3 linked regions of the Homo sapiens genome follow. The protein of the gene in region 3 interacts with the protein of the main gene of each other region in a pairwise test. Each region holds a gene or a part of one and is shown on either strand. Other genes may lie near its edges.

Region 1 (7,037 bases), on a different chromosome or scaffold from region 3:
AAAGTTTTCCAATAAAGATCCCCTAACAATTATTTACTGGACAAAAAAGGTTGATATTTCTAGAAGAGATGATCTCGTTGACACAAAAGACCCAACTTAGGACCCAACTTAATACATAGATAGCACCATGACAGAGCTGGGATCCATTAAGACATGACTGTAGACAATACCATCTCTAGGAACACACTGTCACTCACACATGGATGTGTTGTTTTATGGCCTAAAGATGTTGTAGACGGTTCTCACATAAATTTCATCAGGGGGAGGCTTCTTCTTGCTGCCAGGTTCAAGGAATCTCTTAATTGTAGGGATATTACTTAGTTTCACTGTGTATTCCTGAAAAAGGAAAACCAAAACTTTAAGGCTAACAAAAAAGGTATTAGATACTACGAAGATATGGTTATGCAAAATGGCCCACCAAAATTTGTTCAATAAATACTTGTTGAAGAGTTCCAAGCAGAAATGAAATTTAGCATTTGTTTAGCAGGGGTGTCCAATCTTTTGGCTTCACTGGGCCACACATAAAATACACTAACACTAAAGGTAGCTAATGAGCTGAAAAAAAAACCTCAAAATATCTCATAATGTTATAAGAAAGTTTATGAATTTATGTTAGGCCACATTCAAAGTTGTCCTGAGCCACATGCAGCCCGCGGGCTGTGGGTTGGACAAGGCTAGGTTAAGATCTGATCTCTATGATTATTTACAATCTCTGTCATCAATCACCGGTATCAAGATCAGAGTTTACACAAATCTCCAGGTTCACAAAAAGGTAAGCACTCTTTACAGAAATGGCAAAAGTAAAAACATACTCAAAATAGAATTATGACACTTAAGGTGAAAAAAAAGGAAGGGGAAAACTCACTGAAAACACCTCCAGTGTATTGTTTTGTATTGTTTTTTAACAGTAGTCAATTTGAAGCAGTGGGAGTGGGGAAGGAACAAAGAAATCTGTAACTGGTTGTGATCAATTAGCTGTAAACACCACTCGGACTAGCCACCTGAAGTGCACTGATCTGCTGGGAGAAAATGCATGAGCCACTTAAGTAAAGGTGCTTTAAAAAGTCACTAGATGGTACAATTTATATCTTAAGATTCAGCTTCTTCAGAGTTTTTACTCCTATCAGTAAGTGAATCCTCTTTCTGGCTATGTGCAGGAAATAGCCAGTTGCATTTTTTTCATAGCCTCTGGCTCAGATACCAGATATTTATATAAACTGGAATGGAAGAAAAACATTGTATTTTTCATTCACAGAATCAAATCTTACCAATTCTCAGTAACTGAGAAGAAAAGCCCATTTGATCTAATGAAAAATCTGAACTATATGAAGAAGCATATGCTCATCATATATAATTATTCTAATAAAACCTTTTAAAGATATTTAAATAAAACCATTTATTTAAAAGTGAAGAGGTCATTTTAAATAGCTACTATTTATTAATTGCCTATTATGTGCAAGGCACAGCCTTAATTAAGCACACACACAAACATACATACGTCACTAATAGTAACAAAAACCCTAATAATGATGCCAATTAATTATATATAAATATGACAATTTTCTCTTTTCATTACGTACTTAAGCTCTACTTGTATGATTTTAAATATTATACCAAAATTTAGAATCTTGTTCCAAATGATGTATTGTTTCAAGATTTATCTGGGGTTCATAGTTATCAAAGTATAGTAAAATTTTTGTGACTTTTTAAATCCATTAATCAACACAGGAATAACCCTTTAAATTCAACACAGATCTGGTGTCCGATTCTGAAGTTTTAAAATATTGATGCTCAATCTGATCACAGATTAAAACTGTATTTACGCAGATAATGCTTGGGGCTTAAAAAAGGGTTGTTATTATAGTATCATCAATGTAAAATACCAATAGGTCCTGGTGCTACAGTTTACCAAAAAACCTTGATCTCTATCATTTACCCTAGACTTTTAAAATCTTTTGTGTCCATTCAATGAAAAGTACTTTACTGCCTGTGAGGTGTGTGTCTATGTGTACACAAGCATGTATATATATGCATGCCTGGAAAGATTTCACTTTGTTTTTTTTTTTGAGACACAGTTTTGCTCTGTCACCCAGGCTGCAGTGCAGTGGCATGATCTCGGCTCACTGCAACCTCCACCTCCCCAGTTCAAGTGATTCTCCTGCCTCAGCCTCCGAGTAGCTGGGATTACAGGCACATGCCACCATGCTCAGCTAATTGTTTTATTTTTAGTAGAGATGGGGTTTCACCATGTTGGCCAGACTGGTCTTGAACTCCTGACCTTAAGTGATCCACCCACTTCAGCCACCCAAAGTGCTGGGATTACAGGTGTGAGCCACTGCGCCCGGCCTAGATTTCACCTTTAATAAGCTTAGCATTCTACCTACTTCTGGGTTCAGCATCCCACCTATTTGGGGCCAAAGGTACTTCTAGTACTTCTAAATGTGTTTCTCAGAAACCACACAGTCTAGTGGAAAGAGTACAGACTTAGATCCCTGACTCCCCTGTGGCTCCCAACTCAGTCATCCACAGTCTTGCAACTATGCAGAATGTAATGTTTCCAAGCTGGTAATTTTCATCTGTAAAATGGAGATAGTGAAGCCCATCTCCTAGGGTTATTGGGGTGGGGTTGACGGGACAGATGAGCAAATGCATGTAAGTGCCTAGCAGACTGACTGGAATGAAGCTGGCACTCAACAAGTTGCAGATCCCTTCCTCTAATTTCCCTTCTCTGCTAAACAAGTAACTTTTTTAACAGTGCAAAAGAATACTTCAGGTGAAAAGTATCCTAAGTTCTGAATGAATAAAATCAAATTAAGGAAAGTCAATCTCTGTGTCTGCAAAAGTAAATGAAAAAAAAATTGAAAAAAAAATATAAACTATAACATAAATGATATGGTGGTTTATTGCCTTGTTGAAGATTTTTATTCTCATTTTCTGGGTGTACTTATTGAACTGGTGGTAATTGCTCTCATTAGTATATCAAAATATTTAATAGACTTGGCAAAAAATTGTTTTAAGTATGTGTGTTACTCTTTGGAGAGTTAGTGTATCTCTCTTGGCTTTTGATAACTTGGTCAAACATATAGCAATTTGGTCTGTATCCAGGCTGTTTCAGGGATTGGCAAGCTTTTTCCATAAAGGACCAGTCAGCAAATATTTTAAGTTCTGCAGGCCATATGGTCTCTATCAGATCTACTCAACTCTGCTGTAGAAAAACAAAAGTAACCTTGACATTGTGTAAATGAGTGGGCATGGCTTTGTACCAATGAAATTTATGAATACTAGAATTTGAATTTCATATAATTTTTATGTGTCATGAAATATTATTCCACAGATTTTTTTCAACCATTTAAAAATGTAAAAATTATTCTTAACTCACAAGCTGTATAAAAACAGGTGGCAGGCCAGGTTTGGCCCAGGAGTTACAGTCTGCACATTAGACTTGGAGATAAAAGGCTAAGGTTCTAGATAAAACTCAAGCATCCACTGCCTAAGCCAGCTTGGCTGCTGATTTCTTTATTCTGGGTCTCTACTTCCTCAAGTGAATATTGAAGTCATTAAATGAGTTTTTTTTTAAAGGCCCTTCTCTCCTTTAAAGTTCTATGATCAATCCTGCCAGAATAACCCTGAGGGATAATTTGAACCACACAAGTCTTTCCTTGGAATTCTCAGAAGGAGAATGGTAGGAATCCTTTGGGGTGATGTTTAGGGTGCTAACATCTCTCATTTGCTCTCAGAGCTCAGGCTTAGAATTTCCTAACTTGAGACCATACTATTTCTGAGAAAGGGAGTCATAGCCTGATGAATGAGACTGTTTTGATGTTTATCTCGCCCACTATTCCATCAGTAGATACATGTGAGTGTGAGACCACCTCATCTCTATGGTTATTTCTATGGAAAGTCCCCTGAGGCAAACTCCCTGTGCATGGAGTTTTTTCCAGGAGTGCAGTTATGGAACAAAATTAAGATGAAAATTTCTGAGCTGGGTGTGCTGGCACATGCCTATAGTCCCTGCTACTCAGGAGACTGAGGTGGGAGGATCTCTTGAGCCCAGGAGTTCAAGACCATTCTGGGCAACATAGTAAGATCCCACCTTAAAAAAAAAAAATTTTACACTTCAATGATCTTTCAACTTGAAGGATTTAAGGACCAGAAAAATAACTTTGGGTCCTTACTTTCATTTCATTTGCCAAACTAGAATCTTAAAAATATTACACATACACACACACACACACTCCCCAAAGCCAACCAAACAATAGACACTGAAGGAAGGCCCAAGAGTTCTAGGCCAATCTTCTAATACATAGTTTTATTTACCTGGAGGAAAGGAAATGCAGACAGGATATTAGGAATTTTCTCTTCTAGAGCTAAAATGGTTTGGAGTAAAATCACATCTGCAAGGCTCAGCTGATTACCAACAAGAAAGCTTTGTCCGTGACCCCTTAAAATCTGTAGGGAAATGGTGTGCATCAGTTACAATATTCCACATGGAGAGAGTGATGAGGCTATTGAATCAGTGCAGTATCTGAGAAGAGGTGAAACTATGACCTTGTCATTTCATGCTTTCATAAATAACATCAATTAAGAGAACGCACCCTATATCTGACAGAGAGAGTGAGAGAGAGGGGGAGAGAGAGAGAGAGAGAGCGAGAGAGAGAGAGAGAAAGTACAAAAAAGGTGTGGAAATGAAAGCATCCTTAAATATCTGCTGTGGATCTGAATGAGACATTGAAGTGGGGAAGGGAAAATTCCTTATTTCTGGATTTAGCATCTGGTGTTTTGAAAGGATATATCTACTCCAAAAATGTATCTACAGAAATGCATGCAGGAGGCTTGGGGAGGGGCAGGGTGATTTAAGAAATCTAAGTGATAGATCATCTTCAAGGGGCCCACTCTTATTTCCCAGTTCTGCTGCTAGAACATCAAGAGGTGTAGTCATAAACTCAACCCAATTATAAAATTAGACTTCCTCTTACATGTCCCAAAACAGAGAAAATGAAAAGCTTGAGTTCATCTTGACTCCCATTCTGAGGGTAACGTATAGGTGTGGGGCTTATAAGAATAGATTGTGATTAGGGAGAGGCAAGAAGCAGTAGTAGCAAAGGGGAGATCCCCTTCACAGTCAACTCTTGGATGCCCATGGGTGTCTGCATGTGCACAAGTGTGTGTGTCACAGGGACTCCGAACACAATTCCAGGTCAAATATAGCTACTGGAGCCAGAGTGGCATAGTACAATGCATCCTGAATTTGTAGTCAGAGGCCAGAGTTCCAACCCTGCTCTCCATTTTCTGGCCATGTTACCTTGGACAGGTCACTGAATCTCTTCATGACTTCATTTCATTATGTGTAAAAGGGACAACGGTTCTCACCTCATAGGCGTGTTGCAAGAAACCCTGACACAGTCTGGGCCCTTGGGACCTAAGAATGAGCAGTGAACCTTTGCCAAAGCACCAGGTCCTCTGTGCCCGTTCCAGACCACATTTCTTCATTATCCTATTTTACATTCACAAAGTGCCTGTGGGAAAGATACCATAAAACCTAGCTACAGAAACCCCAGAAAATACCTCTCCTTTTTCCTAAATCTAGTTCCATAAAGATGGTCAGAGGAAGCTTGCCAAATAGGTCTTCCCATATTTTCACACCCTCTTCTTTAGTGTTTGCATTGAAACACTAAAAAAGTTCCTCCCAGTTCAGGAATAAAGAATTTGAAGCTCAGAAAAGCAGATATAACAAGAAGAGAAAAACAACAAAACCAAAAACAAAAAGAGCAAAGGGAAGATAAATAAAATGGAAATGGTTCTTCTACTCATATCGAATTATCAGGGAGGATGTCAGCTGAGACAGCTGTTCGACAACTTTTGTTGAATGAATGAATGAGGTAGTTTTTGTTTTCTGTATCTTCTGAAGTTTCTGCTGTATCCACACAAGGTGGGAACTTGGTGAATGCAAGGAACAATAAGGAACAAAGGCAGGGAGCCCATACTTTTTCTAGACTTCTGAATCATGTGGTCCTAGCAGAGTCCAAGGGGCTCTAAGACACCAGCTTTGTGCTGTGGCTACTATTCGCTCTTAGGAGTCCATTAGCGCTTAGGTTAGTTCAACTGGGCTCAGTTTTAAAATCCTTGGACAGAAAAGGGTGTTTGTGGCAGCTTCTTTGTGGTTTGTGGTTTGGTTGCTCTGTGTATGTAGGCATCTCTGCCACCTACCTTTTCAAACACAGGAAAGTATCTAATTATAGCCTTCTGGGCCATGTTAACCACTTCCTTTTGCTGATCATCTGGTTTTAAGAAAGGATGCATGATAAGCAGTTCCAGCAGATCCAGTGTCCCCTCCACGTACATGTCAATCCTTAAAACAAAAAAGCAGTTGTCTCAGTTTCTCCTCTCTTTGAAGCCATCAGTTTCCACAACTAAGAATTCAGAGTGCTTTTTTTTTTTTTTTTAAAGATGCTGCAACTTAAGTCCCTAGAAGCATTTACCTATACCTGTCTCTTAAGAGCAAAGATATAAGGTCAATTCTAGTTGTAACTCAGAAAAATCTGTCACAGATCAGACAGCTTGACAGTCATGAGTGCTCTCTCTCCTGGCATCCTACTCCTCCACTTTTACCCCAGCATCCATGTTTTGGTCTCTTCGTATGGGTCAAACTTCAACTTTATAAAAATAGTGAATACCACTTATTGAGTGCTTAGAGTGTACCAGGCATGGTGCTAAACACTCTCTATCCATTATCTCATTAAATCACATGACACTATGAGAAATGTACTATTCTTATACCCACGTTGCCCAGGGTCATACATCTAAGGGGTGCAAGGACCAGGCTTTGATTTCAAATTATAATCTAATGCTCACTCTCCCAGGCCTTGAATGTCACAGCAGCTCCTCATTCCTAATACTTAACAATAGTGAATGTGCAAGAAAGGGAAAAAGCAGTATCAAAGCATTTAAAAATGTTGAAATCTGAAACAATGACACCCTAGATATAATATTCAATATCTGAATCCTATTCTTTTGTTTTACTCAGACTCTCTCTACTG
Region 2 (7,037 bases), on a different chromosome or scaffold from region 3:
CTTCAATAGGATGAGGGAAGGAATCCTTTGGCAGGCTACAATCTACTCTGAGGTGGAGTAGTGGAGGGATAAAGGGAGAGATTACACTTGTGTCTCTAGGGCAAAGAAAATGCAAAACAGAACTGAGTAAAAGTAGGACATGCAGAACTGTAACACAGAAGGTAAAGAAACCAGCAGAAGTATCACCCAGCCAAATTTCATAGAGCAGTGGGGAAATATCTGACATTTAGAGAGACAACCCCTGTAAACAGGAATCGATCCCACAAGACTTTGCTTTGGGGAAAAAGCTACCTTCCTTCCCTCATTAAAAACACTCCATTGGTGATGGCAGCAGTGCAGGTGGCAGCCAAAAGGAGGTACAGGACACATTTGGAGATCTTTTATCGTATCCCCTGAACTAGCCTAGGAGTACAAAGGAGAGAAAGGAAAATTGTATAAATGAGTTAAAACAGAAGGCAATCTTTCATATTACAGTTACATCTTTGTAAGACTTCTCATAACAAAATACCCGAGATTATTTCTCTACCCTTAGCATTTGGTCATCTTTTATGAAGGCCCTGTTGTACCCAGTTCAGTGTTTTATATCTAACAGATACACAAATAGTTAATAAAAAGTCAATCTCTTCCACCAAATTCAGTTTTATTCCCCCCTCCACCCCAATCATAACTTCTTTTTATTTATTTTTTTTGAGACAGGGTCTTGCTCTGTCACCCAGGCTGGAGTGCAGTGGCGTGATCTCAGCTCACTGCAATCTCTGTCTCCCGGGTTTAAATGATTTTCATACCTCAGCCTACCGAATAGCTGGGATTACAGGCATGCACCACCGCACTTGGCTAATTTTCGTATTTTTTTAGTAGAGACAGGGTTTCACCATTTTGGTCAGGCTGGTCTGGAACTCCTGGCCTCAAGTGATCCACCCTCCTGGGTGTCCTAAAATGCTGGGATTACAGGTGTGAGCCACCGTACCCAGCCTCCCAACCATAACTTCTAAAGTCCCAACTTTAGTGAGATGTGAAACTCTCCTGTTTCAAACTTACTGCAGTTTTGTCTCCAGCAAGTTCAGTTTCTGCCGGTCAACATAGCGAGAAAAGAGGGACACTAGGTTTGTAGGTATAGAGATTGGCTTGGCCAGGGCTGCTTGGGGAATCCGCAGAAGTTCTCGTGTTGCCATGAACATCACCTCCGTCCTGACAGGGAAGACCCATAATAATATCAGGAGAAAAAAATTTAAAAGATTACCTCAAAGAACTTAAAATAAGAGAAGAAACAGTCCACACTGACCACTGATTATTTTGTGTTGATTCTGTAGCAGGGTCTGAACTCTGTAGGTCTTCACCACGGCTCAGGAGGATGAGGAGCAGTGACAGGCCAAACTACGAGAAAAGACAGAGGGAATCAAACTCAACACTGTGTCTAAACCTCCTCCACCACTGTTGAAGGGATCCTGGCATCAGATGGGGAACAGCTCTAAATCAAAATAACCTCACTACTGTGCTTTTCTGTAAAACCAGGTAAAGATCAGACAAGCATGAGTTGAAAGGCTATGTCTCTCTCCAGGCTTTATTCTGCCATAGCAGTGACCAGGCGCAGCCAACAGAAACGGAAAGTCATGGTGTCCAACACGCCTCTCTGTTCCCCATGCTGAGGTTAAAAGATGGTTTTTCCTTGCCATGGATAATGTAGAATTTGACTTTTCTCCTATTTATGAGAACAGAAATAGGCTAAAAAAGAAAGTAAATGAAGACCAATTTTGGTACAGAAATTAAAAATCAGGAAAAAATAAGAAAAAAGCATTACAGTAAGATATTTTGAATTAAGAAACAAGGTGTAAACTGTAGGAAAATATACAAATAAACACAACTGAAATAAACATGGTATAAAGAGAAACTTTCCATTAAAAAGCACATCTCTATCTGGAAATACAAAGTCTTAGACAGAATGTTAATAAAAATCTAAAAAATAAAAAGAGAGAAAGGGTAAACAGATGTATACACCGTATCTATAATTAAAATTCAGCAACATGCTTTAGAGTATGCAATATATAAAAATGGTCAGGTGTGGTGGCTCATGCCTGTAATCCCAGCACTATGGGAGGCCAAGGTGGGTGGATGACCTGAGGTCAGGAGTTTGAGACCAGCCTGATCAAAATGGTGAAACTCCGTCTCTACTAAAAATAGAAAATTAGCCAGGCACGGTGGCACATGCCTGTAATCCCAGCTACTTGGGAGGCTGAGGCAGGAGAATTGTTGGAACCCGGGAGCTGGAGGTTGCAGTGAGCCAAGATCGCACCATTGCGCTCCAGCCTGGGCAACACGAGTGAAACTCCATCTCCAAAAAAAAAAAAAAAAGTAACATATAAAAATGTGTTTTATTTAGTGGACAGTAAAATCAGGAAATGTAGTCTTTGGGGCATAGGATTAAAATATGGGACGGGCGTGGTGGCTCATGCATGTAATCCCAGCACTTTGGGAGGCCAAGGCGGGTGGATCAAGAGGTCAGGAGATCGAGATCATCCTGGCTAACACGGTGAAACCCTGCCTCTACTAAAAAATACAAAAAATTAGCCAGGCGTGGTGGCGGGTGCCTGTAGTCCCAGCTACTCGGGAGGCTGAGGCAGGAGAATGGCTTGAACCCAGGAGGCGGAGCTTGCAGTGAGCTGCGATCGCGCCACTGCACTCCAGCCTGGGTGACAGAGCAAGACTCTATCTCAAAAGAAAAAAAAAAATGAACAGGGGGCTGGGGATGGGCATGGTGGCTCATGCCTGTAATTCCAGCACTTTGGGAGGTGGAGGCAGTACTGCTTGAGTCCAGGAGTTCGAGACCAGCCAGAGCAACATAGTGAGACCCTGTTTCTGCAAAAAATATAAAAATCAATCGGAGGCTGGGTGTGGTGGCTCACACCTGTAATCCCAGCACTTTGGGAGGCTGAGGCAGGTGGATCACGTGAGGTCAGGAGCCCCGGACCAGCCTGGCCAACATGGCAAAACCCTGTCTCTGCTAAAAACACAAACATTAGCCTGGTATGGTGGCGGGCACCTGTAATCCCAGCTACTTGGGGGCTGACGCAGGAGAACTGCTTGAACCTGGGAGGCAGGGGTTGCAGTGAGACAAGATATCGCCATTGCACTGCAGCATGAGTGACAGAGCAAGGCTCTGTCTCAAAAAAAAAAAAGTCAATCAGGCATGGTGGCACATGCTACTCAAGAGGCTGAGGTGGGAGGATCGCTTTGAGTACAGAAAGTTGAGGCTGCAATGAGCTGTGACTGTGCCACTGCACTGAAGCCTGGGTGACAGAGTGAGATCCTGTCTCAAAAAAGAAAATACAAATAGGGACAAGAAGGTTTAGGTTAAATGTATGACTCATACCTATAAATGGATCATAAAAGGAAGGCTGGCAGTACTTTGGGATTCCATTCCAACTTTCTAGACTCACTCACTTTTCCACAAAATTTCCCTTCATGGCCGGTTGCAGTAGCTCACACCTGTAATCCCAACACTTTGGGAGGTCGAGGCAGGCTGATAGCTTGAGCTCAGGAGTTTGAGACCAGCCTGGACAACATGGCGAAACCCCACCTCTACAAAAAATACACAAATTAGTTGTGCGTGGTGGCATGTGCCTGTAGTCCCATCTACTTGGGAGGCTGAGGTGGGAGGATGGCTTGAGCCCAGGAGGCAGAGGTTGCAGTGAGCCGAGATCTTGCCACTGCACTCTGGCCTGGGTGACAGAGAAGACCCTGATTTAAAAAAAAAAAATCCCTTTTCATGTTATTCTCAGAAAAAAAATACTACTGCCTTTACTAAAATTAAAACTAAGAGACCAAATAACAGAAAGGCACATTCCGGATCACTCCAGAACCCCAGAGGCACTGTCACCTCTTCTTCCTCTGATACACTGACCTTTAGAGTCATGCTTTGGTAGGTTTTCTGGTGCAAAGGAGCAAGAGGCCTTGAGACCACTTTTTCATCTCTACTGTACATAGAATGGCCCTTAATGAGTAACTACTATGTACCAGGCATTATATCGAACCACTTACAACTGTTATCTCATTTAAGTACCAGGACAACTCTATGAAGTCTACATCATCACCTCCATCTTATAGACCAGGAAACTGATTCAGCAATGTGATATCATCTGTCCAAGGTCACAAAGCTAGACAGTAGCAGGGAAGGACTAAAAATTCATATTCTTTATTTCATATTATGTTTCCCCTAGGAATCTCTGAATCTTTAAACTTGATGCAAATAAAATATGAAATGGATGATTCTACTATTCATAGTGTTATGACAGAGACTGCTAATTGCCTAATATGCCTTCCTACCCATTATCAGAACTCTTATGTGTCATGACAATGGCATAAACTAAAAGATATTTTCCAGCCTTCCCTGCACTTAGGTGTGGCCATGTGACAATGTCCTGGCTATTAACAGTAAGTAGAAGTTTCTGGTTAGAACTCCTGGAAAAGGTCTCAATAAGGAAGATGGACAGCTGGTCCACATCTTTTTGCCCTCCACATCCACCTGTCCTTCTTGATGTAAAGCTGAATCATGAATTCCACAGCCATCTTGGACCATGAGGAATAATGAACATGGAAGCCACTGGTAAGAATGGCAGAGGAAAAAAAGTGAAAAAGCCTGGATCCCTGATGACTCTGTCGAGCTACTAAATCAAATTTATTTCACACTAGACACATAAAATCCCATTTTGTTGAAAACACTGTTATTTCTAGCCGGTTACTAGGAGCTTAATGTAACTCTTGACTGAAAGAAGCCTTTTTCCCAAGTTGCTAGAGATACAGCAGCCATTATTTTAATCTATAACGCAAATTAAGACATTTCACAAAGTTCAAGGAGTTAAAAGGGCAAGATCACCTTGTTCTGGAGCACAGCAGTGAGGTGAGGATTGGAGAGTGCTGGTGTAGCTGCACTTTGAGGTAGGTTCATTAGCTGTCGCAAAAGGCTGGTGATACTCACTGATGGAAGATGATAGAGAAGGAGAGAGAAGGGACTCAGTAAGCATGGCAGCACCTACAAAAAACAAATAAAAGCATTATATCCTGGCACGTGTTACTTCAGTTACCCCCCACCAGGGGCATGGATGGAAGGATGTTCATTTGTATATTCAACCACTTAAGGCACAAGTCTGGCAGATATGACTAGAGTCTTAATAATGAATTCTAAGCTATCTACTGAGAACTTTTTCATCTCAATTTGCATTGGAAACACCATGACTTGTGTGAACCAAAGGTGTAAAAAAAAATCACTCCCAAATACATACCAAGAGTTATGCTAAAACATCAATATTTTAACTAATTCCATAAATATTTAAATGCTTACACTACACCATGGGCTAAAAACAAATGGCAAAAGGACACAGAACCTCAGGGATCTAAAGTATAGCGGAGAAGATATGGGTTAATTGGCCATTTCAATATACTGTGAGAAGCACTCCAAGATAGGTTAAAGGCCAAGCAGAAGATCACTTCAGGCCAGGAGTTCAAGACTAGTCTGGACAACGTAGTGAGACCTCATCTCTACAACAAATAAAAAAGTTTCACCTGTAGTCCCCAGCTACTCAATAGGCTGAGGTGGTAGGTTTGCTTGAGTCTAAGAGTTCAAGGTTACATTGAACTATGATTGCACAACCACATTCCGGCTTGGGTGACAGGGTGAGACCCACCCTGTCTCAAAAGAAGTGTTTTCAGATTTAATGTATTTTCTTTTATTTTTATAAAAGCTCAATGAGGAAGAAAAGAAATAATTAGCCAATTTTTATAGATTTTTAGAGAATCTATAAAGTGATCAGAAACTCAGTGTTTGGAGTTACATAGCCACAGCTAGAGCCAGAACCCAAGGCTGTTGAATTCCAGCCTTCTAGTCATTTATTTCTTTTTGTCATGTAGCCAACTGGAAAGTTAAAATAAAGAACTATTAATATAAATAACTAGGTTATAACACAACAAAGGAAATCAAGAGTGCTTCCAGACAATCAATGCACATGGTATAAAGTGATGGCTGGTTTTACTTTAAATGGCAACTGCAAATGGGGAATAAAATATTTTTTGTGGTCTACTATAAATTAAAAAAGCTTTTATTATGGTCATTTTAGAACATACATGAAAATACAAACAACAGCATAATGACATTCATGTACTCACCACCCAATTTCAACATCAACCAAATTATCAACATTTTGCCAATCTTATTAAATCTATGTTCCTTCTGTATCATATCATTTCATCCCAAAATACATCAGTTTGTATTTCTAACAAAATCTCTCACAATATCATACCTAACAAAATAAACAATAATTTTTCTTCATAGACCATTTCTCAGGAAAGAATTTTAAAATATCATCTAGTATCTGTTTCAAATTCAAATTCCCTCAAATGCCTTTAAAAATATCTTTTAGCAGCTGAACTTTGTATTAGAACCATTATTGTGCTAATTATGGTTCAAACAAGATCCACACATTGCATTTGCCTGGTAAGGTTTTTAAAATCTCTCTAACAGGTCTTCTGCCACTGGCCCTTTTCTCTTGTTATTTATCTGTTAAAGAAACTGGGTCATTTGTTCTATAGTTTGAATTTGGCAAACTGCATGTTGGCAGTGTCACTTAGCAGGTTCTGCTATCCTCTGTTTCCCTCCTAAACAGATAGTTAGAATAACAGGTTTATTTGATTCAGGTTCAGTAGGATGTGGGAGGGACATGTGAGAAAACGTCATGGATAGAACTGTGTATTTTCCATTGCATTATGCCAAGAAGAGCTAGGTATGGTGGCTCATGCCTGTAATCCCTGCATTTTAGGAAGCAGAGATGGGAAAACTGCTTGAGCCCAGGAGCTCGAGACAAGCCTGGACAACATAGGGAGACTTCGTTTCCTTTTTTTTTTTTTTTTTTTAAAAAAAAAAAAAAAGCACAGTGCTTGGTTGTCCCACTCTTAGAGGTGTTAAGAGTTCATTAATGGGTTCAGGTGTTGCCAGGCTGCTCCAACCACTGTAAAGTTCCCCATCCACTTTTTTTTTTTTTTTTAATCCA
Region 3 (3,692 bases):
TTACAAAAACACCAAATAATACCTGTACATTCATTTTAAGGACAATAAACTGAATCTATGGACAGTGAGATACTTTTTTAGCAAGGTTCTTCTGCATTATGACATTGGTTAGCAAATGTTTATAAGGGCCAGGCACAGTGGCTCACACTTTGGGAGGCCAAGGCAAGAGGATGCTTGAGGCCAGAAGTTTGAGACCAGCCTGGGCAACATAGCAAGACCCCATCTCTACAAAAAGAAAAAAGATTTAATGCCAGATGTGGTGGCACATGCCTGTAGTTCCAGCTACTTAGGAGGCTGAGGCAGGAGGATCACTTCAGCCCAAGAGTTTCAGATCATGGTGAGCTGTGATTGTGCCACTGCACTCCACCCTGGGCAACAGAGCAAGATCCTGTCTCTAAAAAAATGAAAAATGTGCTCACATTGGCAGCACATCTACTAAAATTGGAACAACACAGAGAAGATTAGCACGGCCCCTGCTTAAGGATGACACGCAAATTCATGAAGTCTTCTATATCTTTAAAAATAATTAATGAAAAATGTTTATAAAACATTCAAAAATAAAAATATTAAGCATACTATGCCACATTTAAGTGAAAAAACGAATTAAAGTCAGTATTTGCATTGTGGGTTTTTGGGAGGGGTTTGTTTTTGAGGCAGCGTCTCACTTTGTTATCTAGGCTGACTGCAGTGGTGTGATCACAGCTCACTGCAGCCTCAAACTCCTGGGCTCAAGTGATCCTCCCCCCTCAGCCTCATGAGTAGCTGGGACTATAGGTACACGTTACCACGCCCAGCTAATTTTTTATTTTTTACTTTTTTTTTTTTTTCCTTTTGAGACAGAGTCTTACTCTGTCGCCCAGGCTAGAGTGCAGTGGTGTGATCTTGGCTCACTGCAACCTCTGCCTCCTGGATTCAAGTGATTCTCGTGCCTCAGCTTCCCGAGTAGCTGGGATTACAAGTGTGAGCCACCACACCTGGCTGGGTTGTTTATTTTTTTTAAGTCAGTATATATGTAGAAAAATTGTAGGGATATTATCAAAATGTTAATCCTCCATACTGGAATTATGGATAATTTTTAAATTTTCCTTGTTTGTCTATTTTCCATATTATCTACGATGAGTGTGTATTTTTTAAATAAGGAATTTTTTATTAGGCAACAATTTTTTGTTTTTTTTTGAGATGGAGTTTTACTCTTGTCACCCAGGCTAGAGTGCAATGGCGTGATCTCCGCTCACTGCAACCTCCGCCTCCCAGGTTCAAGTGCTTCTCCTGCCTCAGCCTCCCAAGTAGCTGGGATTACAGGCACCTGCCACCACGCCCAGCTAATTTTTTTTGTATTTTTAGTAGAGACGGGGGTTTTGCCATGTTGGCCAGGCTGGTCTCGAACTCCTGGCCTCAAGTGATCTGCCCGCCTCGGCTTCCCAGTGTGCTGGGATTACAAGCGTGAGCCACCATGCCCAACCTAAGCAGCAATTTTTTAAATAGTGGAGAAAAATATTGGGACCAAATTGGTTTAGTAACCTAAATGGTCTGCCGAGGTTCTCCCTAGAAGACTTGTTGCCGTAAAGGGAAAAAGAGTCTTGTTACAGTTTAGATCTAGACTACAGAGCTGGTACGGTGGCGCACACCTGTAGCCCCAGCTACGTAGGAGGTAAAGGCAAGAGGATCCCTTTTTATTTTTGTCTTTTTACTTTTTTTGAGACGGTCTTGCTGTTGCAGAGGCTGGAGTGCAGTGACACATTCATGGCTCACTGCAGCCTTGAACTTCAACCTCCCAGGCTCAAGCAGTCCTTCCACCTCAGCCTCCTGAGTAGCTGGAACTGTAGGTGAACACCACCACACCAGCTTTTTTTTGTTTTGTTTTTTGGTGGAGTTAGTTAGGGTCTCACTGTGTTGCCCAGGCTGGTCTCGAACTCCTAGGCCCAAGTGATCCTCCCACCTCAGCCTCCCAAAGTGCTGGGATTACGACTGTGAGCCACTCCACCCGTCCTTAAAATAATTAAAAAAAAAAAAAAGTCTAAGGCCACATTGCCTCAATAACCTCCCTCTTGGATTCTCTGCAGTGGGGGAGATAGCTGTCTATAAGCAGCCCTAATTTTTTTTTTTAAGGAAATTAATCGTGGACTAATAGAAAATTAATCCTGACTAATATGGGATTTTGGATCACATAAAGCTCTGTTATACAAATACTTATTACTGCCTATAATCCCAGCACTTTGAGAGGCCAAGGCAGGCAGATCATGAGGTCAGGTTTCGAGACCAGCCTGACCAACGTGGTGAAACCCTGTCTCTACTTAAAATACAAAAATTAGCCAGGCGTGGTGGCACGTGCCTGTAATCACAGCTACTCAGGAGGCTGAGGCAGGATAATCGCTTGAACCCAGGAGGTAGAGGTTGCAGTGAGCTCAGATTGCGCCACTGCACTTCAGCCTGGGTGACAGAGAGACTCCATCTTGAAAAATATATACATATACTGATCACTATTAACCTCATTGTAAGTATGTATCCTATAGTAGTGTTGTCAGGCATTTCTTTGAAAAACTTACCGGTCCCTAGGAGAAGGATATTTCAGTTCCTGTCACAGTTATGAAAAATAATCTGAGCCTGATAGAGGAATCCATTTGCCTTGAGATCTGTGCTTTCTATTCTTGGTCTTCAGGTGAAGTTTTCAAACCTGTCTCTTTTGTAGGACTTGGAAAAGGAGAGTGACACACCCCTCCAGCAAGTATCCATTGAAGAAATTCTAGAAGAACAAAGGGTGGAACAGCAGACCAAGCTGGAAGCAGAGAAGTTGAAAGTGCAGGCCCTGAAGGACCGAGGTCTTTCCATTCCTCGAGCAGATACTCTTGATGAGTACTAATCTTTTGCCCAGAGGCTGTTGGCTCTTGAAGAGTAGGGGCTGTCACTGAGTGAAAGTGACATCCTGGCCACCTCACGCATTTGATCACAGACTGTAGAGTTTTGAAAAGTCACTTTTATTTTTAATTATTTTACATATGCAACATGAAGAAATCGTGTAGGTGGGTTTTTTTTTTAATAACAAAATCACTGTTTAAAGAAACAGTGGCATAGACTCCTTCACACATCACTGTGGCACCAGCAACTACTTCTTTATATTGTTCTTCATATCCCAAATTAGAGTTTACAGGGACAGTCTTCATTTACTTGTAAATAAAATATGAATCTCAAAAGTGTCATGTTATTTCCAAGTTTGAGTTACCTGTAATGAATAGATTAATAGATTAATTAAGTTTCTGCTCTCAAAGGTATAAGCAGTCCACATACTGGGATTTCCCCCTTCAGTCACAGTTTCAAGTAGCTGGCTACTTAGGAAGGAATATTTTTATTCCAGTCATCTCAGGGGTCCTCTCCTGTTTCCATGTTTGTATCTGTTAAGAAATACAAATGTTCGGCAGGGGCGGTGGCTCATGCCTGTAATCCCAGCACTTTGGGATGCCGAGGCGGGTAGATCACCTGAGGTCGGGAGTTGAAGACCATCCTGACCAACATGGAGAAACCCTGTCTCTACTAAAAATACAAAATTACCAGGGCGTGGTGGCGCATGCTGTAATCCCAGCTACTTGAGAGGCTGAGGCAGGAGAATCACTTGAACCTGGAAGGCAGAGGTTGCGGAGAGCCAAGATTGCACCATTGCACTCCAGCCTGGGCAATGAGCGAAACTCCGTCTCAAA

What was found. Proteins that work in one complex are often made in the same cells at the same time.
Region 1: the proteins of LSM1 (region 3) and GSTA4 interact in binary tests that used the Homo sapiens proteins (3 or more experiments, as listed by UniProt).
Region 2: the proteins of LSM1 (region 3) and PATL1 interact in binary tests that used the Homo sapiens proteins (3 or more experiments, as listed by UniProt).

Annotation. Positions count from the first base shown.
Region 1 is NC_000006.12:52,978,257-52,985,293, forward strand, and holds part of GSTA4 (glutathione S-transferase A4), read right to left. Parts: intron 6,350-7,037; coding exon 6,208-6,349; intron 4,450-6,207; coding exon 4,318-4,449; intron 337-4,317; coding exon 214-336; 3' UTR 1-213. UniProt on the Homo sapiens protein: Conjugation of reduced glutathione to a wide number of exogenous and endogenous hydrophobic electrophiles. This isozyme has a high catalytic efficiency with 4-hydroxyalkenals such as 4-hydroxynonenal (4-HNE).
Region 2 is NC_000011.10:59,638,010-59,645,046, forward strand, and holds part of PATL1 (protein PAT1 homolog 1), read right to left. Parts: intron 5,027-7,037; coding exon 4,871-5,026; intron 1,375-4,870; coding exon 1,283-1,374; intron 1,189-1,282; coding exon 1,039-1,188; intron 403-1,038; coding exon 381-402; 3' UTR 1-380. UniProt on the Homo sapiens protein: RNA-binding protein involved in deadenylation-dependent decapping of mRNAs, leading to the degradation of mRNAs. Acts as a scaffold protein that connects deadenylation and decapping machinery.
Region 3 is NC_000008.11:38,162,838-38,166,529, reverse strand, and holds the end of LSM1 (U6 snRNA-associated Sm-like protein LSm1), read left to right. Parts: intron 1-2,689; coding exon 2,690-2,860; 3' UTR 2,861-3,191; downstream 3,192-3,692. UniProt on the Homo sapiens protein: Plays a role in the degradation of histone mRNAs, the only eukaryotic mRNAs that are not polyadenylated. Probably also part of an LSm subunits-containing complex involved in the general process of mRNA degradation.